7 linked regions of the Homo sapiens genome follow. The protein of the gene in region 1 purifies or fractionates together with the protein of each later gene. This does not show direct contact. Each region holds a gene or a part of one and is shown in the gene's direction. Other genes may lie near its edges. The genes, in order: HSPA12B, ARHGAP35, PPP6R1, HK1, EIF2AK4, L1CAM and VWA8.

Evidence for each region.
Region 2: the proteins of HSPA12B (region 1) and ARHGAP35 purify together in Homo sapiens (affinity purification with mass spectrometry; one large-scale study listed by BioGRID and IntAct). This does not show direct contact.
Region 3: the proteins of HSPA12B (region 1) and PPP6R1 purify together in Homo sapiens (affinity purification with mass spectrometry, with the first as the bait; one large-scale study listed by BioGRID). This does not show direct contact.
Region 4: the proteins of HSPA12B (region 1) and HK1 purify together in Homo sapiens (affinity purification with mass spectrometry, with the first as the bait; one large-scale study listed by BioGRID). This does not show direct contact.
Region 5: the proteins of HSPA12B (region 1) and EIF2AK4 purify together in Homo sapiens (co-immunoprecipitation; one large-scale study listed by IntAct). This does not show direct contact.
Region 6: the proteins of HSPA12B (region 1) and L1CAM purify together in Homo sapiens (co-immunoprecipitation; one large-scale study listed by IntAct). This does not show direct contact.
Region 7: the proteins of HSPA12B (region 1) and VWA8 purify together in Homo sapiens (affinity purification with mass spectrometry; one large-scale study listed by BioGRID and IntAct). This does not show direct contact.

Annotation. Positions count from the first base shown.
Region 1 is NC_000020.11:3,731,347-3,735,484, forward strand, and holds the start of HSPA12B (heat shock 70 kDa protein 12B), read left to right. Parts: upstream 1-1,338; 5' UTR 1,339-1,448; intron 1,449-4,138.
Region 2 is NC_000019.10:46,996,997-47,000,496, forward strand, and holds part of ARHGAP35 (rho GTPase-activating protein 35), read left to right. Parts: intron 1-500; exon of another isoform or gene 501-762; intron 763-2,307; coding exon 2,308-2,413; intron 2,414-2,830; coding exon of another isoform or gene 2,831-2,936; exon of another isoform or gene 2,937-3,077; intron 3,078-3,334; coding exon 3,335-3,500.
Region 3 is NC_000019.10:55,256,218-55,260,401, reverse strand, and holds the start of PPP6R1 (serine/threonine-protein phosphatase 6 regulatory subunit 1), read left to right. Parts: upstream 1-1,384; 5' UTR 1,385-1,967; intron 1,968-2,676; exon of another isoform or gene 2,677-2,789; intron 2,790-3,331; exon of another isoform or gene 3,332-3,451; intron 3,452-4,184. UniProt on the Homo sapiens protein: Regulatory subunit of protein phosphatase 6 (PP6). May function as a scaffolding PP6 subunit. Involved in the PP6-mediated dephosphorylation of NFKBIE opposing its degradation in response to TNF-alpha.
Region 4 is NC_000010.11:69,381,347-69,384,846, forward strand, and holds part of HK1 (hexokinase-1), read left to right. Parts: intron 1-1,140; coding exon 1,141-1,445; intron 1,446-2,986; coding exon 2,987-3,135; intron 3,136-3,449; coding exon 3,450-3,500. UniProt on the Homo sapiens protein: Catalyzes the phosphorylation of various hexoses, such as D-glucose, D-glucosamine, D-fructose, D-mannose and 2-deoxy-D-glucose, to hexose 6-phosphate (D-glucose 6-phosphate, D-glucosamine 6-phosphate, D-fructose 6-phosphate, D-mannose 6-phosphate and 2-deoxy-D-glucose 6-phosphate, respectively).
Region 5 is NC_000015.10:39,940,615-39,944,114, forward strand, and holds part of EIF2AK4 (eIF-2-alpha kinase GCN2), read left to right. Parts: intron 1-2,768; coding exon 2,769-2,871; intron 2,872-3,500. UniProt on the Homo sapiens protein: Metabolic-stress sensing protein kinase that phosphorylates the alpha subunit of eukaryotic translation initiation factor 2 (EIF2S1/eIF-2-alpha) in response to low amino acid availability.
Region 6 is NC_000023.11:153,869,174-153,872,673, reverse strand, and holds part of L1CAM (neural cell adhesion molecule L1 isoform 1 precursor), read left to right. Parts: coding exon 1-82; intron 83-319; coding exon 320-522; intron 523-1,494; coding exon 1,495-1,617; intron 1,618-1,713; coding exon 1,714-1,884; intron 1,885-2,174; coding exon 2,175-2,286; intron 2,287-2,433; coding exon 2,434-2,618; intron 2,619-2,739; coding exon 2,740-2,871; intron 2,872-3,010; coding exon 3,011-3,154; intron 3,155-3,500. UniProt on the Homo sapiens protein: Neural cell adhesion molecule involved in the dynamics of cell adhesion and in the generation of transmembrane signals at tyrosine kinase receptors.
Region 7 is NC_000013.11:41,688,610-41,692,109, reverse strand, and holds part of VWA8 (von Willebrand factor A domain-containing protein 8 isoform a precursor), read left to right. Parts: intron 1-171; coding exon 172-236; intron 237-664; coding exon 665-790; intron 791-1,834; coding exon 1,835-1,944; intron 1,945-2,601; coding exon 2,602-2,756; intron 2,757-3,500. UniProt on the Homo sapiens protein: Exhibits ATPase activity in vitro.

The DNA of each region.
Region 1 (4,138 bases):
AGGGAGGGAAAATAGCCCTTGCAAAGGTTTGGAGTGGAAGAGCAAAAGGGATGTCCCAAGAACTGTGCCTCATTTGATGGGGCTGTGGGGCCCTTCTCTGACGGGCAGCCTTCCCAGGCACAAAGGGAGGTGGACTGAGAAGCATCTGGAACTTCTGTGGGGGCACATGGGGCAGAGGGGAAGGGGAACAGGCAGAACGAGTCAGCTGCCTTTGAAAGCTCCACGAGGGACCTAGCAGAAATTCATTCATTCATCCGTTCATTCATTTATTTATGACAGGTTCTCTCTCTGTCACCCAAGCTGGAGTGCGGTGGTGTGATCACACTTACTGCAGCCTCAAACTCTTGGGCTCAAGCAATCCTCCACCCCAGCCTCCTGAGTACCTAGGACTACAGACGTGAGCTACTACACCTGGCTAATTTTTAAAACTTTTTAGAGACAGGGTCTCCCTTTGTTGCCCAGGCTGGTCTTTGTTGCCCAGCCAGCTTCAAGCCATCCTCCCACCTCAGACTCCCAAAGCGCTGGATTACAGGCATGAGCCACGGGTTCCCAGCCCAGAAAGAGACCTTCACCCCACAAACCCCCTGTCTGGAGGCCAAGTCCCAGCATCCCCAGAAGGGCCCCGGTTAGGACAAGAAAAAGGCTGTGTGCCTCGGAGGAGAGGCTGGGTGCCCCCTGGTGCGGAGTGGTCCCCTTGCCGGGCATGGGGCCTCAGTCTGTGAGACTCCGCGCCTCCGTCGTCTGAACTTGAGCAAAGACAGAGCTAGGCCTAGCCTGGGGACCCGAGGGCCTGCCCTCATCCGCAATTCTGCCTCTTTTCTGGCCACTGAGGACCGGGCTAGGGAAGCTGTAGGGGCAGTAGGGGTGGGAGGAGAGAGGGTTCCGGGTCAAGGGACTGGAGGGGTCTGGGGCAGGGAAGTGGAGGGGTCTAGGGCGGGCCCTTCCCCCTCCGCTGTTGGGCCCTCGCTGAAGGGGCCGAGGCTGAGCCCCAAGGTGGGCCTGTGGGGGCGGGGCGGGGGAGCCCCTCAGCAGCTGGACCGCAGGAGGCCGACCAGGGTCTGGAACTCCTCTTCCCCTCCCTCCGCCGCCCCCTCTCCCTTCTCCCACCCCCTGGGCTGCTAGGGGAGCGGGGGAGGCGCAGGAGGGGCTCAGGGAGGGGCCCTGGACGCGGGACCAGGCTGGGCCCCTCGGCGGAGGCCCGCGCAGGCAGGCCCCGCCCCGGCCTCGCACATCTGGGCCGGGAGCGCGGGCCGACCCGGCGGCGCAGGCGGCGCGGCCATCCGGCCTGGGGGAGGGGGCGGCGGGCGGGGTGGGCGGCGCGAGGAGGCGGGAGGCCTCAGGGCCGGGCGCACGTCGAGGGCTGCGGCCGCCGCAGCGGGCACGGCCAACGAGCTGCGGGCCCGGGATCGCGGCGGCTGGACGGGGCTGGAGCTGTCGGGAGGGCGGAGGTGAGTTCTGGGGCGGGGGCTGCCGGGCGCCCCGAGTGGAGAAAGGCGAGGAGGTTTGCCGTCCCGGGCTGTCGGCTGAGACCCCACCAAAAACCTCCAGACTTTGTCTGGTGGGGACAGATCTGCAAGCCCCTCTCTGCAGCGTGGCTGCGGGCTCGGGAAGGCACTTGGGGCAGCGACCTTGGTCTCCCACCTGGGCTTCGGGGGACCACCTCCCCTGTCCCTCGCACAGCTGCTCAGAGGCTTAGGCTGGAGAAACTCCTGTGTCTTAGGGGCTGGCAGGACTGGTGTGGGCTGGGGCCTGCTCCAGGGAGCCAAACTGAGGGACCCGGTGCCTAGGTCTGAGGTGGAAACCTGGGAGTTGAGTGTATGTGTGTGTGTTGGGGGGTGCCTCAGGGGTCCCAGGCCCTGTGGTCCCGAAGCGCAACAGAGTACTGAGTGGCCCAGGTGCCAGGGTCTGAGGCTGGGACCTGGTCTTCCGGGCCAGCTTGAGGTCCAGGTGGGGTGGGGTCCAGGTTCCCGCTAGGGCAGTGGAGCCTATCTGTGAGGTTAGCGTGTGTTGATGAGAGAGACTGGAAGGGAGTGATCACGAAACTAGGGACCCTCCGGAGAGCAGACGCAGCGCAGGAATCCCAGGCCAGAGGGGTAATGGGGGGCTGTGGGCAGAGCATGGGAGGGGCTCTGTTGTTTGTGAACTGGCTGCTCCCATGATGAGGACCCAAGGGGGTGCGGCAGGATGTATGGAAAGCAAAGATGAGGACAGGGAGGGGCCATGGGAGGCCATTTCTGTCACTCCCTGCCCCAGCGCAGGATGGGGCAGCCACCTCACTCAGCCACACATGGTCCCATCTTCTTAAGGGCTCCTCTCCAGAACAGAGTGGGGCAGCCCTTTGGGTGCCGTTTCTGATCTGTGCTTTGGGCCCTGGTTGGCCCAGTCTGTGGCTTGGAAGAAACGCCTGTGGCCTCACTTAGCCCGCTGACGGAGTCCTGTTCCATTACAGGGCTGGCTGGGTGCTGAGCAGAGAGCAGCAGGCGGAAGAGGCAGGGTCCTAGTGAGGAGGGGAGCTGGAATGACCTGGGTGGGCTCTTTGTCTACACAGGCATCGTGTGGAGCCCTGAAACCCAGAACACTGCATTCCCATAGTGCTCCTGGGGACATGAGCGCCCAGCTGAAACACCCCACACAGGAAGAGATCCTCCGAGGATTCTGTCAGGCAAAGGGTTGGGCCCCTGCAAGGTGGCTCACGCCTGTAATCCCAGCACTTTGGGAGGATGAAGTGGGAGGATCGCTTGAGGCCAGGTGGTCGAGGCTGCAGTGAGCCGTGATCGTGCCACTGCACTCCAGCCTAGGCAACAGAGCAAGACCCTGTCTCAAAAAAAGGAGCGGGAGTGGGGGCAGGGTTCGTCCTAGGCTATTGTAAGACCAGGGGATACTCTGGGATGGGAGTCTCTGGTTGTGAGTTCCTGCTGGGCCACACCCTATCCTGGTCCCCAGTGACTAATCGGCCCTGCCTATTGGGTAGAAGTCAGGGCCAGGGGTCAGGGTGAAGCTGATGACTAGAGGTCAATATGAAGCCAAGAGTTAGGGGTCAGTCCATGGGCAGGGTTAGGGATCAGGCTGGGGCCAGAGTTTGGCATGTGCTTGTAGCCAGGAAATGGAGTTCCTTTCTGTGTAAATCAAACTGTCCCACTCAATTACTCTCAAACCCATAGGCACCACCAGTCTGAAATTAGTAGGCCCCTGAAGCGGGGCTCAGCCTCCCCTCATTTTCAGCTGTGGACTCTGCCCAGACCTAGCTTTCGGGAGCTGGGCTTGTCCCGTGTTCTGTGGTCAGCACTCTCCTTAAGTGTCCCTGGGTGTGTGTGCTCGCTTGGCAGTCAGCCACCTCTTGGCTTACCTCCACCTCTCGGGGAATCCGTGGGATCCTCCTTCTTTAACACAATTTTTTTTTTTTTTTTTTTGGAGACAGGGTCTCACTCTGTCACCCAGGCTGGAGTGCAGTGGTGTGATCATGACTTACTGCAGCCTCAACCTTCCGGGCTCAAGCAATTCTCCCACCTCAGCGTCCAAAGTGGCTGGGACTCTAGGCATGCACTACCACGCTGGGCTAATATTTGTATTTTTCGTAGAGATGGGGTTTTGCTGTTGCCCAGGCTGGTCTCGAACTCCTGAGCTCAAGCAATCCACCCACTTTGACCTCCCAAAGTGCTAGAATTACAGGCATGAGCCACCACACCCAGCCCTTAACACAGATTGATTTAGTTCCTACCTCCTTCCTTAAAGAACTCATGATGACTAGAATGCGATTCTCAGTAAGACCAAAATATCTAACAAGAAAATTCAGAATCTGCATCATGAAGGGAAAGAACACTGCTCAAACCTGCCCAACTCCCTGCTTTTATCAATACCTTGCATATCTGGACTTGTTAACATAAGCCCTCTGTGTCACCCATTCTACAGGAAAGGGCACTGAGGCACAGAGATGTGGCATGATGCACTCACGCTAGGTGCCATAATAGGCTCTTGCCATCCCTGAAACCCCAGCATAGGGGCACTCAGCATATCGCACAATGAGAGACGGTAGATAACTGGACAAGCTTCCGATAGCTGGGAAGAGTATAGGCCCATGGTTTGGATGTGGAATCCAGTGTAGAGCGAGGACTCAGTCTTTTTTTTTTTTTTTTCTTGA
Region 2 (3,500 bases), on another chromosome or scaffold:
AAAATACAAAAATTAGCAGGCGTGGTGGTGGGCACCTGTAATCCCAGCTACTTGGGAGGCTGAGGCAGGAGAATCGCTTAAACCTGGGAGGCAGAGGTTGCAGTGAGCTGAGATCACGCCACTGCACTCCAGCCTGGGCAACAGAGCGAGACTCCATTTCAAAAAAAGAAAAAAAGAAAGTGCCCTTGAGGTGGAACCCTTAAAATAAACCTTGGATTCAGAGAGATGAAGCTGCTCATAGCCCAATAACTAGCTCCCAGGACTTTTTTAGTCATTTCTGATAGACAGATGTTACCAAGACACTGCTCTTATCAAGTCACACTCTCAAGGCCACAGATTTGCCAGGTTTCATTCCTCCTCATTAGGCTGCCCGGGAGAGCTCCTGGAGCTCTGTCCCTTCCAGCCCTGCGGCCTCCCTTCCCCACAGGCTCCTGCGAGTAGACTGGCTCCCAGGTGCCCTTATTTTGTGTCCAGCTGTGAACTCTTCATTTAATTGCCAGGTGTCACCGAATGAAGGAGGCACTGTCCACAGCCCCTTTTACAGACAAGGAGACTCACCCTAAGGTGTCACTTGCCCAAGGTGACACGGTTGACGCGAGAGGCCGGATTTGTACCAGGGCCATCTGAGTCAGGATCTGGACTCCAGACCACCACAGGACCTTCCTCCCTGCTCAGCGTGCCCGTCATTGGCATTCTGTCTGCTCTTCCAAGTCTCACTCTCACCAGGGTGCTTGTGCAACTCCCCCAACTCTGACCCTCTGGGTACGTCACCTGCTGCAAGGTGACTAGGAAGCTATGGGTTTCCCAAAGAATGCTTGCTTCAGGGCTGGGCGCGGTGACTCACGCCTGTAATCCCAGCACTTTGGGAGGCTCAGGTGGGTGGATCACGAGGTCAGGAGATCGAGACCATCCTAGCTAACACGGTGAAACCCCGTCTCTACTAAAAATACGAAAAAATTAGCCGGCGTGGTGGCGGGCACCTGTAATCCCAGCTACTTGGGAGGCTGAGGCAGGAGAATGGTGTGAACTCAGGAGGCGGAGCTTGCAGTGAGCCGACATCGCACCACTGCACTCCAGCCTGGGTGACAGAGTGAGACTCCGTCTCAAAAAAAAAAAGAAAAAAGAAAGAAAAGAATACTTGGTTCAGGGAGTCCGCACCCCTCCCGGATTCATCAGCAGAATGGCACACATATGTCTCCGGCCGAGACGGTCTGGCACCATCATCTATCCCAAAGGAGCCCGAGCCCCCGGGCCCATTAGCAATCATCTGCGCTTTAACAGGCCTCTCTTCACCACCCCCACAGCCGCCAGCTGTGAGGTCGCTGCCATCTCCTTCGTGAGACCCTCCTGTGGTTCTTCTGAGCCCTGGAGTCCACGAAGGAAACATGGGGGCATCTTTCCCTGCACAGAGAAATCTGTCTTAGCCAGCTGGGCTCCAGGTGGGCTCTGGGACGTTTGTGCCTCACCAGCCCCGATGCCCTTCCCAGTCAAGGTGGGCCACACCCACTCGGGGATGGCAAGCCCAGTGGCCACAGCTCAGGCCCCACAGCCAGTCCCAGCTCTGCAACTTCTAAACTCAGATACTTCATCCTCAAAATGGGGTGACGAGTTCCTGCCTCACACGATTGTGGGGACTCATGGAACTGGGCCTGGCGCGGGTTACAAGCTGCATTCCAGGCAGTTGTTTTCCCTCCCCCAGGACATTAGGATTCCATGATAGGCAAAGTGTGGGCGTTGGGGGAAAAGGGGGTGCGTAGTTCCTTTGGTGAAGTGCATAAGAATTCCCCCACTGTTTCCATCAGCCCCTCCAACGGGGATGTGTGGACGGTCCCTGTGTCTCTAGGAAAAGGACAGAGCCTTGGTCTCATGACCGACTGACTCCCTCCCTCGAAGGCCTGTTGGCGTGGGTGGGTGGCAGCGGCCGCCCGTCTCCATCTGGTCAGGAAGCAAGCAGGCTTTCTGCGTAGGGATGCCTGTCTCCAGGGGCAACCGGATGAGCAAAGAATGGTGTTCTTTATGGCGGAGTGTCTCCAGATTGTTCTGTCTTGGGTGGTGGGGGCCAGGAAGCCCCAGGCACACAGTGCCGCCCTTCAGCGGGGGCCTGGGACACAGAGGTGGGCCAGACCCCTGGGCCAGTGCCACTGCCAGGTGTGCCAGCCTTGGGCACAGGCTTTGGGGGAAAGAGTGGGGTTAGTGTCATCCAAAAGCCCTGGGCTGTCCTCAGAGAAGGCCCATCACAGAGCACGCCCTGGGGTGGCCACCAGCCTCGGCCATGAAAGGCAAGGCTTTGGTTTTCTCTCTCCTCAGAAATCAACGACCGGGAGCAGAAGTTGCATGCCCTTAAGGAGGTATTAAAGAAATTTCCAAAGGAAAACCACGAAGTCTTCAAGTATGTCATCTCTCACCTAAACAAGTAAGTCGCAGGGCCTTCTGGTTGGTTTTTCCTCCTGAAAATTGACAGCCAGGGTCAGTGTGTCGCAGAACAAGGCTCTGTCCACAAGCCAGTAGAAGCCTCAGGCCCTGGCCTGGAAGGGGTGCTGGCTGGCCTCCCATGGTGCCCGCTGGTCTCGGTGCCCAGAGCCTCTGCCTCTCGCCCATCCTCAGGCCTCCCTCCTGCTCCTGTCTGAGGGCAGCCCACGTGGCCTCAAACCTGCCTAACACCAGATAGGGCACTTAGCTCCAGCGGGCATGGGGCCTCTTGTAGGCCTGTGTCCCAAAGCTGGCAGAGAGAGAAGATCTTCTGGTTGGTACTGATGCTCCAGAAATCTTCTCCTGAATCAAAAACACCTCAGAGTCCCTGAAAGTCCTCTCACAGCATTCACGTTCCCAGCTGGGGAGAACCGGGACACTGCACCTCGAGAGATGTGCTGCAGGAGACAGCCAGCCTCCGGCATGGAGCACAGCCGCAGGCGGGAGGCCGTATGGTTGTTCCCTGAAGTTCCATGTGTGTGGAGGAGATCTGCTGGCCGAGTGGCCTCTGATGGCGCTCTGGCTTAGGACACTCAGCCTCCCTCCCTCGTCACAGCCGGAGCACCGCCACTGCTTTGGCTGGCTGCAGAGTGAGTCCCTGAGGTGGTCCATCCACCCCCAGGGGTTTGCGGGGCTCCAGGCAGCCTTTCCGAGGTTGGCCATGTAGAGGCACTGGGCTGGAGGGGAGAGGACACTGAGGGCGCAGCCTCCCAGGCAGGGCAGGGTACAGAGAGCTGCGCATGGCCTTTTCTGCTCCACCTGAGGGAAGAAAGGTGGGCTCAGCCTGGGTGCTGAAGACCATGAGCGCCCAGGGCCAGGTGGGGCCCTGCACAGTTCTGACCATTGAGTTTGGTGTCGCCCGCAGGGTCAGCCACAACAACAAGGTGAATCTCATGACCAGCGAGAACCTCTCCATCTGCTTCTGGCCCACCTTGATGAGACCTGATTTCAGCACTATGGACGCCCTCACAGCCACGCGCACCTACCAGACAATCATTGAACTCTTTATCCAGCAGTGCCCCTTCTTCTTC
Region 3 (4,184 bases), on another chromosome or scaffold:
GGTCTCAATAGAACAAAGAGGGCAAAGGAGGGGTGAATTTGCTCTTTTTTTTTTTTTTTTTTTTTCTCGAGACGGAGTCTCGCTCTGTCACCCAGGCTGGAGTGCAGTGGCCTGATCTGGGCTCACTGCAACATCCACCTCCCGGGTTCAAGTAATTCTCCTGCCTCAGCCTCCTGAGTAGCTGGGATTACAGGCGCACACCGCCACGTCCGGCTATTTTTTGTATTTTAGTAGACACGTGGTTTCACTGTGTTGCCCAGGCTGGTCTCAAACTCCTGAGCTCAGGCAATCCGCCCACCTCGGCCTCCCAAAGTGCTGGGATTATAGGCGTGGGGTCTTGAACTCCTGAGCTCAAGTACAGGCAGGCGTGAGCCACCACGCTGGGCCCTTTGTTTTTGAGACAGGTTCTCGCTCTGTCTCCTAGGATGGAGTGCAGTGGTGCAATCCGGCTCACTGCAGCCTCGGCTCAAGCGATTCTCCTGCCTTAGCCTCCCGAATAGCTGAGACCACAGGCGCGGGCCACCAGGCCCAACTAATTTTTTAAATTTTCTTTTGTAGAGACGGGGGTCTCCCTAGGTTGCCCAGGCTGGTCTCCAACTCCTGGTCTCATGCCATCCTCCGGCCTCGGGCCTCCTAAAGTGTTGTGATTACAAGCGTAAGCCACCGCGCCCGGCCAATTCGGAGTCTTAAAACAAAAACAAAAACAAAAAAGTTCCTCGCGCCCACACGATTTTTACAGTAGGCCTCTAACATGGGTAGAGAGGGGAGCTATTAAAGTTGGGGAAACCGAGGCTCAAAGCCAGAGGGACCTTCATCAATCTAGACACAAGGTCTAGGAGGTCTCTTTCAGTTGATGCTATTAGAAGCTGCTTTGGGCGGAACTGGCAACACCAGCGACCCGGCCGGGACTATCGCCAGCAGACGGAAACGACTGAGGGCCTCTGAGGCTCGGAGGCGGCTAAGCGCGAGAGCCGGACGGAACGAAGGCGCCTGGCTTTGGCTGGAGCGAAAACCAGGTCTGGATTTCGCAAGAGCCCGACCCTGGAGCCAAAGCTCCACTATGATTAGAGGAGACAGAACAGCGAACGGATTTCCAAACGGAGCGAGTGGGAAGGGAAATCCTGGAGCGGAATATTCACGGGGCCTTGGAACGGAGCCGGTGCGCAGCTGCGGCTCACTGAGCTGTCTGGGTTTATTCCGGGGCAGACCGTTGGCACCAACGGGCGCAAGCGCGTCTGCGGCGGCGGGGTTCAAGAGTGGGCGGTGTCGGGAGCGCCCGGGCGCACGCGCACTGCACCGCCCAGGCGTGCACCCCGCCCCCCGCACCTGCGCACCAACACAGCCGCGGGAGGGCGGGGCCTCCTGCGTCGTCCTGCGCTAGGGGGATTGTGGGATAGTGGCGGAGGGAGCCGGGCGTCGGAGGCCCTGAGGCCGGCCGCAGAGCCCGGAGATTGAGCGGCTTTGGGGAAGGGGTGGTTAAGGAAGTAGGCCTCGGCTTCCGTCGGTCGCTGCTCGGCTCTGCGGCCCGTTTGGACCGCGGAGGAGGTCGCCTTCCCCTCCCGTGGGGCGCTCGGTTGGACTGTGGAAACCGGGGCAACTTCCCCCGTCTTCCCGGCTGAGGCGCCTGCGTGGGCCTCGCGACCCGGCTCGCCAACCCGCCTCGGCCCGCACGCCCACCTCGCCTGCGGACCCCGGAGGTGCCTACGCGGACTAGTGACGCCCCCCGCCCGTCGGCAACTCCACCCGGCGCTGACCCCCTCAACTCTGCAGGACCCGGCGCGCGAGGACCCCACGACCCGCGGGCGCCTGCGCGGACCCCGCGAGCCCCGGCGCCTGCGCGAGTCCCCGACGCCGCCCCCGCCCCCACTCACCGGGCCCCGCAGCAGGGGCCGGAGCCGCCGGCGGCGGGGCGGGGGGGGGCGCCCCGATGAGCCCCGAGTGCGAGGAGCCGCCGCCCCCCCTCGCAGGTGAGCGGCCCGCGTCGCCCGACCCTCTCTCTCCAGGGCCAGGCGCCCACGTCTTCCCCTCTCCGCGTCCCCTCAGGCTTTTCCCTCTCGGGACCCCCGCGGGTCTTTTCTGCTTCGGATCCTTTCCCTCCTTCCTTCGGGTTTCCTCTCCACGGCACCCCGTTTCTTCCCCCTCGACCCTCCCCAGTCTCTTAATCTCTTCACCTCAGCTCCGCCGCCACCCTAGTCTCAGTCTCTTGCTCTCGGCCTTTTCCCACTCGCTCTCTGCAGCTGCGCTCCCCAGTCCCTGAGCCTCAGCTCCGCTCTCTTGCCTCTCTGGCCGGTTCCCCGGCCCCCCAGGAGTCTTTCTCCCTGGTTACCCTGGACTTTGCCTGCTTACACCCTTCCCTCTCGCCCCGATCTCTGCCCCGCCACCTCTTCCGTGGCGCAGCCTCCTTAGATCCCCGGAGCTCAGGACTGGAGGAGCGGGGCTTGTTTTCACCTTGACCGACCCTCTCCCGCCTCCGGCTTCTTGTGCGAGGGACCTGGGAGCGGGGCTTCTCTGGAGCAGCCACCACTCGGGCCTGCTTCAGTGAGATGAAGCCTGCTGAGGGCAGGCAGGGAGCCTGGCGCTGGGCACCGAGGAGGGGGCATCAGCCCTAGGCCCTGCCCTGGAGGTGGGGCCGGTCCCTGGAGGGGGTACAAAGGCAGAGCCGGACAGTCACAATTCCTGCGTGTCGTGATCGAGGTGACTTAGGGAGCTGCAGGGGGCCACAGAGCGGGAGGCACTGGTGAGACTGACTGGACGGACGGCTTTTTCTGTCTAGGAAGGATGAGTAGGAGGTGACAGATGGAGAGTGGGAAGAAGGGCCTTCCGGGGGGGGAAGGAGCAGCACGTGCAGATATGTCAAGGAAGGAAGGTCGGAGTCCTGAGTGCAGATGTATTGGGAGGGTGAGGGGCAGAGTAGTTCCGCCCGGCGTGCTTATCCAGGCCTCGAATGGGACCTCTGGTTGGGGTCTTTCTTGCTCGCTCGTAGTACACACAGACATGACCATAGACACCCGCCTGAAAGGCAAGATGTTTCAGGAAAGGAAGCTGCGTAGACTGTCAGGTGCGGTACTGGGTTCACAGTTGTAGAGAAACTGCAGTGGGATTTCATCCAGCCCAAGGGCGAGGGTCTAACTGTTAGCGTGCGCTGCAAATGCAGCAAGGACTCGAGATTGCCTGGATAACACAGGATGAGGACTTGGTTTACATACATGCACAACACACATGGAGACACGGCGCCCGGCCACGTGTGCTTACTAGTGGTGGGATGGCTGTTGGAGCTGCTTGTGCTGTTGAAAATGTTATGCTTTTTTTTTTTTTTTTTTTTTAACTCTAGTTCTGGGATTGGGATCATGAGAAGGCAGTCCAGCTAATTGTTAGAGGATCTTTTGCCAGACAGACCTAGGCCGAGTCCGGCTTCTGCCAAGCGAGACCTTGGACAAGTTGTTCCTCGTCTGTAAGTGGGGATAGCAGACTGCTCTCCTCAGAGGGTGGATCTAGGGATTAAGTGCAGGGTTTGTAGAAGCCTGTGGCAGAATGCAAGGCACATGACACTCTGCAATCAGTAGCTGTTTTGATGTTGATGATTTTGAGACTGGGTTTTGCTCGTTTGCCCAGCCTTGAACTCCTGGACTCAAGTGATTTTCCCACCTTAGCCTCCTAAGTAGCTAGGACTACAGGCACGTCCTGCAATGCTTGCTCAATTTTTGTGTTTTTGTACCACGCTTGGCTAATGTTTGTATTTTTTGTAAAGACTGGGTCTTGCTCTGGTGCCCTGCTGTGGTGCCCAGGCTGATTTCAAACTCGTGGGTTCAAGCAGTCCTCCTACCTAGCCTCCCAGAGAGCTGGGATTATAGGCATGGACCACCACACCTGGCCGTTCTTTCGATTATTATTTGATTTGGGAATGTCCATTGCAGTGGCTCTCAACTGGGGGCGATTGTGTCCCCTGGGGGACGATTGGCGATATCTGGAGATGTTTTTGGTTGTTACAACTGGGGGGAATGCTGCCAGTATCTGGTGAGTGGAGGTGGAGGCTAGGGATGTTGCTAAGTGTCCTCCAGTGCATGGGCAGCCCCAACACCGAAAAGAACCGTCCAGCCCAAATGTTAGCAGCGCAGAGGAGGAGAACTTTGCTCCACTGCTGGGGTATGGTGTGTCGTTGTGGCTTATTTGCTCTGTTGTGACTC
Region 4 (3,500 bases), on another chromosome or scaffold:
CGTAATTGTATTTTTAAAATATTTTTAAAGTATTTGCAAAAATCTTGATAATGAAACTTTTATTAGCCATTTCTTTCTTTTTTCTTTGTAATTTCTTGGCTAATTTTTTGGACAAGAAAGCCTAGGGATTTGCAGCATCACATTAGAATTTTTTTAGATTGTGGTAAAATACACATAACATGAAGTATATCATCTTAACCTTTTTTTTTTTTTTTTTTTGAAGGCAGGGTCTTGCCCTGTTGCCCAGGCTGGAGTGGAGCGGAGTGGTGTGCTCTCAGCTCACTGCAACCTCTGCCTCCCAGGTTCCAGCAATTCTCCTGCCTCAGCCTCCCGAGTAGCTGGAATTACAGGCATCTGCCACCATACCCAGCTAATTTTTGTATTTTTAGTAGAGACGGGGTTTCACCATGTTGGCCAGACTGGTCTTGAACTCCTGACCTCAGGTGATCCACCTGCCTTGGCCTCCCAAAGTACTGGGATTACAGGCATGAGCCACCTCGCACTTGGCCCCATCTGACTTTTGAACACCGTGCTTTTGACCACTGTGCTGTATTATCTTCCTGTCATGGTGGAGGGCAAAATCTTTTTAGACCTGGAATTTTTTGTATGTGATACTCATGTAATAATGAGAGTCTTCTCTTTTTATGTGTGATTATGAACGATTTCATTTTTCCTTTTTACCTCTCTGCATTTGCTAACTTTTCTACAGTGGATGTATATGATTTGTGTAATGAAAAAAGCAGGTGCAGAAAATGGAATTAGGCTGGGCACAGTGGCCCATGCCTGTAATCCCAGCACTTGGGAAGCTGAGGCGGGTGGATAGCTTGAACCTAGAAGTTTGAGACCAGCCTGGGCAACATGGCGAAACCCTGTCTCTACTAAAAATACAAAAAAGTTAGCCGGGCGTGGCCCCAGCTACTCGGGAGGCTAAGGTGGGAGGATCACCTGAACCTGGGAGGTTGAGGCAGCAGTGAGCTGTGATTGTGCCATTGCACTCCAGCCTGGGTGACAGAGCAAGACCCTGTCTCAAAAAAAAGGAAAAGAAAAAAGAGTTAAAGAGTGGAGAAAGAAAGGGTGGCCGGAGGTCCCCAATAAATGCTCAGTCCAGCTGTTGTGGAATGTCCCCCCTGCCCCCATAAGGTATTCCCGGCGTTTCCACAAGACTCTAAGGCGCTTGGTGCCAGACTCCGATGTGCGCTTCCTCCTCTCGGAGAGTGGCAGCGGCAAGGGGGCTGCCATGGTGACGGCGGTGGCCTACCGCTTGGCCGAGCAGCACCGGCAGATAGAGGAGACCCTGGCTCATTTCCACCTCACCAAGGACATGCTGCTGGAGGTGAAGAAGAGGATGCGGGCCGAGATGGAGCTGGGGCTGAGGAAGCAGACGCACAACAATGCCGTGGTTAAGATGCTGCCCTCCTTCGTCCGGAGAACTCCCGACGGGACCGGTGAGGGCCTGCTGGGGGCTGACATGCCTGTCCTGCTCCTGCCAGGAACTGAGCCGCAGTGGGGGAGGTTGGATTCGCCAGTGGATGCCTTCACACTGGTGATGCACGATTTTGCCAGAGCTAGAAACTCCCTCACATCTCTGTTTTCCATTTTTATTAACTGATTTGTCATGTGTGTGACTCAGGGCAGTTTAATTTTCCTGGTCAGACCTCCCAGGCAAGTGCTATCTCTAAAACCACAGCCCTGCTCAGAACAGTGCTCTTAGCTGGGCAAGGTGACACACGCCTGTCATCCAGCTACTTAAGAGGCTGAGGTGGGAGGACTGCTTGAGCCCAGGAGTTCAAGACCAGTCTGGGCAACATAGCAAGACCCTGTCTCAAAAAAAATTAAATGAATAAAAAAGAAGTGTTCTTAAAAGCTGGGCAAATCCCACAGCACTGATTAGGTTTTCCCAAAGCCAAGGAAAGCCAGCAGAAGGATAAACACTCAGTGTACCCTTCTTAAATCTTGATAGAGTATGCATGAGGCATTCAGGGCCTGGGGAGTTTCGCATTCAGGCAAATTGTAGAACAAAATCCAACCCTTTATGCTAACCTTGGTAGTTTTCACTGGAGCTGATCATTATGGGGAATCTGAAGAGCTTTTCAGGTGGGTCCTTGGAGTAACGAATGTTTGTGACAGGAATGTGTCCTATGTGTAAGTTACCTAATACCACATTATAAGCCACCCTCACACTTAGTGGCTTAAAACAACCACGCTTTATTATTGTTCATGCATCTGTGGGTCAGTTGGACAGTTCTGCTCATCAGGGCCAGGATTGGCTGACCTCTGCCGGCCTCATTCCTGCATCTGCAGTCAGCTGTTGAGTCAGCTGGGAGGCAGATCTCAGACGCCCTTCCCCACATGTCCAGCAGTTGGCTGTCAGCTGGGGTGCAGGGGCCCCTGGCCCTGTGTCTCATCCTTCAGTGGGCCACCTGGCTGTTCAAGTGGTGGCAGCAAGGGCTGCGAGGGAGAGGGGAAGACTTCAAAGCCTCCTGGAAGCCCAGGCTGGGGATAGGTTCAGCTTTGCCTCTGCCACACTCTGTTGGCCTGAACAATCCTAGGGCTGGGCTAGATCCCAGGGGAGGAGAAATTGACTCCATGTTTCAGTGGGAGGAACTGCAGTCATGTTGCAAAGAAGGATTTTGCACATGCAGGGAAGGGAATGATGCAGCTGTTTTTGCAAATACCCCACACCTTGACATAAATTATTATTTTTTGTAGGAGATTTTCATTGTTGCAGCCCTGGTGAAGTCTGTGTATTGTGACAGGTGGTTTACTCACATGCTCTCCTCCCAGTGTGGCTCCAAGTCTGTGGTGGTCAGAGATGTGGTGCCCACTCTTCCTCTGAGTCTGTGCTGTGTCCTAAAGGGAGGAGTTGCAGCTTCTCCTCTATGTTTGCTATGGGGTTCTCCCCTTGAAAGTCTGGAGTCTTGGGGTTACTGGCTGCCAAGAGGCACTTAGCTGTTTTTGACATTCTTTACGCTTTTGACTGCAACAGAGAATGGTGACTTCTTGGCCCTGGATCTTGGAGGAACCAATTTCCGTGTGCTGCTGGTGAAAATCCGTAGTGGGAAAAAGAGAACGGTGGAAATGCACAACAAGATCTACGCCATTCCTATTGAAATCATGCAGGGCACTGGGGAAGAGGTGAGATTACAAAACCATAGTGCATGTGCACTGCACACACGGCCAGTGGCACCGGCAGTCACGTGATGACCAAAATCCGCCACGGGGTGCCCACATGGATTTGTGTCCTTGTGGCCCAGAAGCACCAGATGCTTTTTGCCATGCCTGGCTTGTGACACTCTGGTGGCTGAGAAGATTCTGGAAAAGGAGGCTCACTCTGCATGTGTGTGGGGTGTGTTTTCCTACGTGTGTGTGTGTATACACACTTTGGTCCATGTGCACTGATAAAATTAAAACCACAGAGAGCACGGGCGATCCTTTCTTTTCCCCTGCAGCTGTTTGATCACATTGTCTCCTGCATCTCTGACTTCTTGGACTACATGGGG
Region 5 (3,500 bases), on another chromosome or scaffold:
TAATTATAAAACATTAATGAAAAAGATAATTAAAAATTTATGAAAGGAAATTAAAAGAGTGCCTCTCTAGGTTGTTTTTTTTTCCTGACACCAAATACATGATGCCTTTTCTGATACCATGTGGGTGTCCAGTAGTTCAGTTCAATTCTGACACTATCTGTAGTTAGCAAAGACCCCACAGATTAAGGACCCAGTTCCACAAGATTGCCTCCATTTCTGATGCTAGTGGCAAGTCCCAGTACTTCTGACCATTTATAGCCAGTATTTATAACTGGCTATAAATTTAGGGGTTTCCACCACCCCCTCCTAAGTTGCGATAATTGCTAGAATGCATCACAGAACTCAGTTTCTGTGAGTTACATTTACCAGTTTGTTGTAAAGGATATGGCTCTGGAATAGCCACATGGAAGTATTATGAAGGGTAAGGTGTGTGGGAAGAGGCACAGAGCTCCCATACCCTCTCCAGGCCTGGCACCCTCCCAGCACCTCCCTGTGTTCTTCAACCAAGAATCTCCCTGAACCCTGTCGTTTAGGGGTTTTTATGGAGGTTTCATTATGTAGAGATGATTGATTAATTAAATCTTTGGCCACTGGTGATTGAACTTGATCTTCAGCCCCCTACTCCTCCCTAAAGATCTGGGATGGGGCTGAAATTTCTCACCCTGTAATCAAGGCTTGGTTTTTCTGGTGACCAGTCCTGATCCTGAAGCTATCCAGGTACTGACCAGAGTTCCCTCATGAGTACTAACTCCGGTATGGTTGGAAGGGGTTTGTTATGAAAAACATAAGATGCTCCTCTCACCCCTGTTGCTCAGGAAATTCCAAGGGTGATAGGATCTCTGTGCCAGGAACAGGGGTCAAATATCAAATATATATTTTTTTATTATACCATAGCCTCAAGAATTCAAAGTGTTTATTCTTGAAAAATCAAAATAAAGAAAAAGGTATAAGTGCTATAATGTTATATAAGTGCTAAAATATTAATTATAGCATTATTTGTGAAAGCAAAGATATTGGAAGCAATCTAAATGTCAAATACTAGAGTGAGGTTTCTCCACCTTGGCACTACTGACATGTGGGCAGATAACTCTTTGTTGTGGGGTCCTTCCTGGGCATTGTGGGATATTTAGTAGCATCCCTGACCTCTGTCTGCTAGATGTCGGGAGTACATTTCTCCCCAGGTTGTGGCAACCAAAAAAAGTCTCCAGATGTTGGCAGATATCCCCTGGGGCCAAAATCACCCCTGGTTAAGAATCATGGCACTAGATAACTATTCAGGTAAATCTTAATGTGTCCACTTGATAAAAATATTATGGGATGATTGCTTTTAACATGGAAATGCTTATAAAAGTTAAAAAGCAAACATTATAATATCAGCTACATAAACTATGAATTATATAGCAAGGAAATAAAGAGAACATTAGAATTTTTTTTGAAGTTTAATTAGCATCATTGATGATTTTTTCTCCATTCTGTTAATATTGCTATATTATGATTACTTATTTTTTAAATTATAACAAAAATCTTAATTTGGGGTAATATTCTTATCCTTTTGAATGTGGTACAGGAAAACATTGCTTTTCTGCAGAATAGTCCTGGGTGCCACTGTGAGAGAGAGACTCCCGGGTTAGATTCTGGAATTCTGGAAATTTCAGCCCCATCCCAGACCTTTGGGGAGGAATTCTAGAAATTTCAGCCCCATCCCAGCTCTTTGGGGAGGAATCTAACCCAGGATTCCATACATAGAGTCAGGACTGTATGGTTTGTTTTTCTGTTCTTTCCCTCATATAGACTACTTTCTCTCAGATTTCTATCTATAGAAATAGATAATGATCATAGCACCCTTTCATACTGAAGCATTGAGAGAACGCATAGATAAGTGCATACTCAAGACTTCACTGGTTAAATGCCATGAATTACTCAGAAATGCTTGGTAAAAAGTGATGAGTCATCATCTCTTCAGTAAAATTAAATAACTCCTATTTAATCTGAGAGAGTTGTTATTGGATATTTATTGGTTGGGAATAAAATGAAACCCGAGGGCTGGTTGTGTAATGTCCTTGAGTTGAAAGTGTTGACTTAGATGAGCTCTAGGCAGAGGTGCAGAGAGTGTGCATGACTAGATGTATTTATACACAAGAAGTGAGCATTTCCACCTGGTTTCGATCAGAATGAGTGATTGGGATGCAGCAGTGTGTTGTGGGAATACTAGAGGGATCACCAGGGCTCCACTCATCTATTTATTCTTGTTCTGCTTTATGCTAGAGCACACCTGAATGCAGAGCGCTTGGCCTTGCCAGTGAGCTGTCAGAGCTAGGTTAATTCTCATTGGCTGCAAGCTAGGGTAGAGAATTACCATACAAAGGAGCACATGGTTAAGTTACTGGGCTAGAGTCAGCTGCAGAACTGGAATGATTTTTTTTTTTTTTTAAGGTGAAGAACTCAGAGTTAGGGATCCAGGTCAAATCGTAGGAAATAAATAGTAATTGATGTTGGGAAATTTTAATCAGATTGTAAAGCTGAAATTAGATACAGGGGTCAAGCCCAGTAAGTCTAACAGCCCAGACAGAAGGCTTTGGCCAGCCCACTTCTTCCCTGTAGGACGCAGGTGACTCCACTGTCAACTGGAGTTGCAGGGATATGGTTGAAGTCCCTTTGAGATTAAGGGCCTTGGGCCCAGAGTGCTTTCAGTTTAGCAAATATTAATGCAAACAGGCTATACTTTCTGGAGTAACTCTTTTTTTTTTTTTTTTTTTTGCCTTTTCCAGAGTTCCTGAAATAGAGTTAAAAAATGCCAAAGGTCTATCAAATGAAAGTGTCAATTTGTTAAAATCTCGCCTAGAAGAACTGGCCAAGAAACACTGTGGGGAGGTAAGATTTGTTAAACTGGAATTAAAAGAAGACAGTAAACTTCCCCATTACACCTCAAATCCAATTTTGAGTAGCATGTTTTGTGTTTTATTGGTTCTACAAAAGGGAACATTGTGATTTTTATTTATTTAATAGGATTAATGAAATTTGTAGTCTATAGATGGTACTATTGATGCTGAAGAATGTTTCTGAAAATTGCTAGGCATGGTGGCTCACACTTGTAATTCCAGCACTTGGGGAGGCTGAGGTGGGAGGATCACTTGAGCCCAGAAGTTTGAGACCAGCCTGAGCAAAATGGCGAGCACCTATCTCTAAAAAAATTAACTGGGTGTGGTGGTGTATGCCTATAGTGCAAGCTGCTCAGGAGGCTGAGGTGGGAGAATTGCGTGAGCCCAGGAGTTTGAGGTTACAGTGAGCTATGATCACACCCCTTCACTCCAGCCTGGGCCATAGAGCAAGACCCTCTCTCTTAAAAAAAAAGAAAAAAAGAAGAAGAATTTTTCTGAAAACAGTTGATGTGAACCCAGCCATACTTTTTGTATACTTTGGATCTTGCATCATGACTTGAACCTTTTTGTTGGAAAATGTGGGCAGACAAACAATTTCGGACCACCTCTCCCCTTTGCATA
Region 6 (3,500 bases), on another chromosome or scaffold:
AACAGTCTCCACGGCGCCTGGTTGTCTTCCCCACAGATGACATCAGCCTCAAGTGTGAGGCCAGTGGCAAGCCCGAAGTGCAGTGAGTGATCTCTGCCGTCTCAGCCCCTGTTGCCTGCCACTGACCCCGGCCTTGTGCCTCCCTGGACTGCCTAACTTCTAAGCCCAGAAGCCCCAAACCTTGCTAATCACCCCAAGTCCTCGCCATCTCCCAGTCCATCCCCTGGGGGCCCTGGCTGCTTGCACCTGTCCCTCCAGCCTGTTCCAGCCCCCGTTGGGTTCCAGGGCCTCAGGCCTCTGGGCCTTTTTCCGCCCACAGGTTCCGCTGGACGAGGGATGGTGTCCACTTCAAACCCAAGGAAGAGCTGGGTGTGACCGTGTACCAGTCGCCCCACTCTGGCTCCTTCACCATCACGGGCAACAACAGCAACTTTGCTCAGAGGTTCCAGGGCATCTACCGCTGCTTTGCCAGCAATAAGCTGGGCACCGCCATGTCCCATGAGATCCGGCTCATGGCCGAGGGTGCGAGGCGCTGCAGGGACCAGGGAGGGCAGGTCCCGGAGTTCGTGTGGGATTGTGGGCTGGAAGCTGCTGTCAGCCAGTTGTCTCGTGGCGAGGGGCCTGGGTGTCCTGCCAGCCCTCCACCCCACCCCAGCTTCTCCCCTGGCCCATCTTGTTTCTTGTGCAGTCTCCTCCTTTGCCCTGTCTCTGTCTCCATTGCACTTCCGGTCATCTCATGCCCTTTCACTCCCTCAGGCTTTCCTGGTGCCTGCCTCATGGCTGAGCAGGAAGGTGGCGGGGGGAGGGGGGGGCGGGCTGGTGGGGGGAGTGACTGATTCTGGGCAGACCTGCCTGAGTCACTGCAGTCATCTCTGTCTACACCTGCACTCCTTAGCAGGGCCCCTCTTCTCTGGCTTTTCCACTTGGCTCTCCATCTCCTCCCCTCCACCTCCGACTTGGTCTCTCTTGCTCCACGGCTCTGTCTTGATCTGTGTCGCCTTTTCCCTGGGGTTTTCCCTTTGCATTCCATCCTCCCTGAGCTTTCTGCTTCCTGAGCGCTCTCCTCTCCCCTCCCCACCCCTCCAGTTACCTTGGGAACCGTTGCCATGGTTTCTGTGTCAGGATGATGGAAGGGTCTGTGACTCCTGCATCCCTCCACAGCTCCCCTCCCCCATCACTGCACCTCAGCCTCAGCCTCCCCCCACCCGTCCTTTCCTAGGGTGGGCAGGGAGAGCTGAGAACCGTGGAAGGTTAACCCTTCCTGGCCTCCTGGTCTCCTGCTCACCCTGGCCTCCCTAAGTGCTAGTCTCTGCTATGAGTCCAGAAGGTATCCAGAGTGTCTGCCTCCTTTTCTGTGAAGTTTCTACTGGCCTGACCCTCTCGCCCCCTCGTCCATCCCTGGTGTAGCCCGCCACCCCCCTGCCCCCACCTCCCTTCTCCTGCCTAGCACCATCTGGACCAGGAGGAGAGTGTCAGCCCGTCTGTCCCTTCTAGGTGCCCCCAAGTGGCCAAAGGAGACAGTGAAGCCCGTGGAGGTGGAGGAAGGGGAGTCAGTGGTTCTGCCTTGCAACCCTCCCCCAAGTGCAGAGCCTCTCCGGATCTACTGGATGAACAGCAGTGGGTGCCGGCGAGCGGCTGCCTCGTGGGGTCGGGGTGTTAGCGGGGGTGTCTTCCTGGACGGGGTCATGACTTCGGCCTCCTTGCCCCCTGCAGAGATCTTGCACATCAAGCAGGACGAGCGGGTGACGATGGGCCAGAACGGCAACCTCTACTTTGCCAATGTGCTCACCTCCGACAACCACTCAGACTACATCTGCCACGCCCACTTCCCAGGCACCAGGACCATCATTCAGAAGGAACCCATTGACCTCCGGGTCAAGGCCAGTGAGTCTCAGAGGCTCTGCACTCTCTCCCTGACTCCTTTCACCCTCAGGCATGGCCCTTCCCACCATAGGTCCATCTGACAACTCCAGGCTTCCTCAAGAACAGCTTGGCTCCCACCTCTACCCTGCCCAGACCCCTTCCCAGGCGTCGAGAGCAGAGACAGGACACTCTCCTTAATGGAGGAAGACACAGAGGCCCCGGGGGCTGGCTGGAGTGTCGAGTCCCTCAGCCTTGCAATTCTGGGGTGGAGGGAAGAGTGGGCAGCCCACCCACCCACTTTCTCCTGGCAGCCAACAGCATGATTGACAGGAAGCCGCGCCTGCTCTTCCCCACCAACTCCAGCAGCCACCTGGTGGCCTTGCAGGGGCAGCCATTGGTCCTGGAGTGCATCGCCGAGGGCTTGTGAGTCTGGGAACCCAGGGCAGGGCAGGGCAGGGCAGGGTGGCGGAGCCCTAGCAGGGAGCTCAGACCACCGCGGGGTATAGGGGGCTGGGGTGATTGGCCTTGTCCTTTCTCCCTTCTGCTCTCTTCCCTTTGCCTCCCGGGCAGTCCCACGCCCACCATCAAATGGCTGCGCCCCAGTGGCCCCATGCCAGCCGACCGTGTCACCTACCAGAACCACAACAAGACCCTGCAGCTGCTGAAAGTGGGCGAGGAGGATGATGGCGAGTACCGCTGCCTGGCCGAGAACTCACTGGGCAGTGCCCGGCATGCGTACTATGTCACCGTGGAGGGTATGGACCTCCTGGGACAGTGGCCTGTGATGCCCACTGTCATGGGGGAGGGGAGGGTCTGCGCCGGGTCAAGAGCCAGCTGCTGGCTGCGGGCTCAGGGCGGCTCTCCCCTTCCTCCCAGCTGCCCCGTACTGGCTGCACAAGCCCCAGAGCCATCTATATGGGCCAGGAGAGACTGCCCGCCTGGACTGCCAAGTCCAGGGCAGGCCCCAACCAGAGGTCACCTGGAGAATCAACGGGATCCCTGTGGAGGGTGAGCAGGGCCTCAGGCAGGAGTGGGGAGTGTGGCGAGCCCTGGGGGCTGTGGGGGAGAGGAAGAGGAGGGTGAGGAAGGGCCTCAACGCAGCTCAATGCCGGGCTGTGGCCCATGGGCCCACCTGCTGCATGCACAGAGCTGGCCAAAGACCAGAAGTACCGGATTCAGCGTGGCGCCCTGATCCTGAGCAACGTGCAGCCCAGTGACACAATGGTGACCCAATGTGAGGCCCGCAACCGGCACGGGCTCTTGCTGGCCAATGCCTACATCTACGTTGTCCGTGAGTGCCCTCCCTTCCTTACCTCCTAACTCCCAGTCTGTCCCTGCAGCCCACTGGGCCAGGCCACCAGAGTGGCTCAGCTGGCAGCTGATGTGTCCTCGGCCTACCAGGCTGGCGCCGACCTTTCTCCTTGCTGACACCCTTCGCCCCATCTCACTCAGCCTCACGATAGCCGAGGGAGATGTAAGAGGGGAAAGGTCTTGTCACTGTGACTGAGCGGACCGCTGTGCCACAGGATGTGACCAAGGCCAGCCCAGGTGGCACCTCTCCTGGAACTTCAGGGAAGGCTGGGGACTAGGCCAGGAAGGCTTCTGGGGAGAGGTGACTGTCAGTTAGGCCTGGAATA
Region 7 (3,500 bases), on another chromosome or scaffold:
TTTAATCCATTTTACCATAAGAGTCTTAGAGCAGATAAATAGATAGCTTGTTTGAGAATTACATGTTTTACTAGTTGAAGAACTTTATTTTATTTAAGGGGAAGTAGCTAAAGAGGGACATGACTGTATCTGACACATTTAATATGAATATCTTGTTTTGTTTGTCTTTAGGAAACTTATAAAATGTGTAAAGAATTTTCACACAAAAACTGGCTGGTGTTCTACAAAGAAAAAGGGTGAGCTCTTTATTATAGAGGATTTAAACTGGAGTTCTTATTTGGCCCATTCTATTTCCTATTTTGATTATACTTGTTTACTATAAAGTGAATGTAACCAAATTATGAATGTTTTAATATAAAGTAACTTGCCCACATTGCAGAATATTGAGAAACAGATATAAGAAAAGCTAGTGCTCACAATTCCATGACATAGCCACTACTAACATGGCAATGGTTACTACTTTCCATTATTTTTACTTATACACACCCTGACATAGTTTAGAATTTTGCATATCTGTTTTTTTAATTAACATTTTTCTATATTATTACTTAATCTTAAAACATTCTTTTTATGGGTTGCATAATGTATCATGAAATGATTATGCCAGATTACTCAACCATTATCCTCACCATTTCCTTTCAGATACAGTTTTCTTCTTTTCCAGGAACAGCCTGACTGTGCTGGATGTTCTAGAAGGGCGAACTCACACCATCTCACTTCCCATCAACCTCAAGACAGTTTTCCTTGTAGCAGAGGACAAATGGCTTCTGGTGGAGAGCAAAACAAATCAGTGAGTGGCTTTATATAGTGTATCATGGAGTATGTTGTAGCTCAATCTTATTTATGAATTATCCAACATCTTTACTGTTCTGTCTTTCCTGTGTCTGTCCTTTAACAATTTCTGTGTTTGGCAGCATCTCTATATATGAGACTTATAAGAATTGAGGAGGGGAGAAAAAATAAATGTCACTTCTCAGAAAATGACATTGAAATTAACAGTTAAAAAATCATGACTTTTTCATATGATCCATATTTATTTGGGCTTTTTCCTATTTGTACATTGAGAATTCACTGTATTCTTGCTAAACTGGAGACACTTCAAAGTAGATTTTCCCTTCAAAGAGCCACAGTCTCTATCCTAGAGCTGTTGCCTCTTTGTAAATTCACAGAGTTCACACCTTAGAAGTGTCTTTCTCTTTTTATCTTGTGTATTCTGGTTTGGATGTGGTTATGTTTATGTTTATGTTATCTGACCCATTGGACTGTGCAGTTCTTGATGAAAGGCGGTGTCGACTTTGAGCACCTTCCCTCATGCACAACTCCACTAGCTAAGTGCAGACTCTTTCTGCCCCTCTGCTGACAAGCAGAAGTATCTCATTGCAGAGGATTTCTGCCTATATATACATCCATATTTTAGAAATGTTAAAAATAAGTAGATCAAGGAGACTACAGTTGTGAGGGCATCTATCTCCTAGCTGATCACAAATCAGAAGTCATACTCCCCCTTCCTGGCTGATCAAAGAGTTTTATCAAGAGAGGGTTACATGATAATAAGAGTGCACCCCATTAGAGTTGCTTCCCCTCCCCACAACCCTTTCTCTTATAGGAAGCATTGGATTTTTGCCTCACATTCATTACTGTATTGCTGTTGTGCACTGCTCTTTAACACAGTGTTGAGAAGTTATTTGTTAATTCATGATGAAACTCTAAAACTGCAAATTATACTGGAACTATAAAAAAGAGACTGAGGAGAATCTAATTTTTCTTAGTCTGGCCTTATTACTATTAGAAAAAGAAAAATTTCACTTAAGCTAGATGTTTTGTTTGTTTGCAGGAAATATCTTTTAACTAAGCCTGCACACATCGAATCTGAGGGTAGTGGGGTTTGCCAGTTGTATGTGCTGAAAGAGGAGCCGCCCAGCACAGGGTTTGGAGTTACACAAGGTAAATACTATGTCATCTGTGTTTATGGCTGTGTGAGTGCATGCTTGTACATATACTGTCTTCTAGAATCATTTAAGAACAAAACACCAGCCTATGTTAAGTTTACACCAAAAGAAAAAACTTAGTCACTACACCAGAAATAGTAAATAAGAATCTAGTATCTCAAATTGTCATAAGGAAGTTCACTGTTGTAAGCTCTGTCCTTGAATTTTTTTAACTGACAGATCAGTATTTTTATATACATTTAGGTTGCAAGTCTAATTTAGGATAACATCTTTTTTCTGCAGACTATTGGGATTTCTATTTAATTTATCACAGTTTTGGGGGATGAATAGTACTTACGAAAAAAATCTAAAACATACCATTGCCAACCCTTGGTTGGGTCAGTTTTTACATCTTTTCTACAGGGAGCTATTAATTATAATATTTATTCCTAATAAAATTTTGAATTCTGTAAATACTTGAAATCACTTTGGGAAGATGCCTTGATTATAAAAACAGCATTTTTTCAAACAAAAGCCCATGAATGTAATTTAAAATGTTTTCTCTTTTTTAACTTGTTCTTTTCCATTTGACTTGTTGAGAATAAAATCTTGCAAAAAATTAATTCCTGGAGCATTTCAGGAGCATATGGTGTCTAATGTTTGTACTTTTCAGAAACAGAGTTCAGCATACCTCATAAAATTTCCAGTGATCAACTATCATCTGAACATCTAAGTTCAGCTGTGGAACAAAAGATTGCCTCTCCCAACAGAATTCTCTCAGATGAGAAAAATTATGCTACAATAGTTGTTGGTTTTCCAGATCTCATGGTAAGCACCCATTTTTTAAATTATCGGATAAATGTTTCTTTCCCTTAGTTTGACCTATAATCTGTAAGCCTGTTTGAGGGGTAATTAAAAACATAATTTCCTGGTAAACATGTTGGATCAAGTCTTCCTTCCAAATCAGTCAGTAGAAAATATGTTATACCTAAATAGTTTCATTACACTTCAAAAATTAACATTGAAAGCGTAATGCAATGATAGAATTTAGTAGGGGGAAATGAGTATTCTCCATATGTGGGGGTTCATGTAATACAGTTTAAATGCTTAACCTTCTGATGGTAATTTTCTGTCATGTCTTCTATAATTTTTTAAAGTTAATTATTTTTCCATCTACACATTCTATATATTTATTTATTAACTTTTATTTTAGGTTCAAGTGTACGTGTGCAGGTTTGTTATATAGGTAAATTGCATGTCACAGGAGTTTGTTGTACAGATGGTTTGGTCATCCAGATAATAAGCATAGTACCTGATAGGTAGTTTTTTGATCCTCACCCTCCTCCCACTCTCCACCCTCAAGTAGGTGTCAGTATCTGTTGTTCCCTTCTTTGTGTCCGTATGTCCTCGATGTTTCGCTCCCACTTGTGAGAACATGTGATATTTGGTTTTTTGTTCCTGTGTAAAGTTAAATTTGTTGGATTGTCATTATTGTAGATTAAAATTTTCAACAGTCATGAAGATAGATTTATTTTCCATTGAGTTTTGCTCTGATTTATCATATCTTTGCAG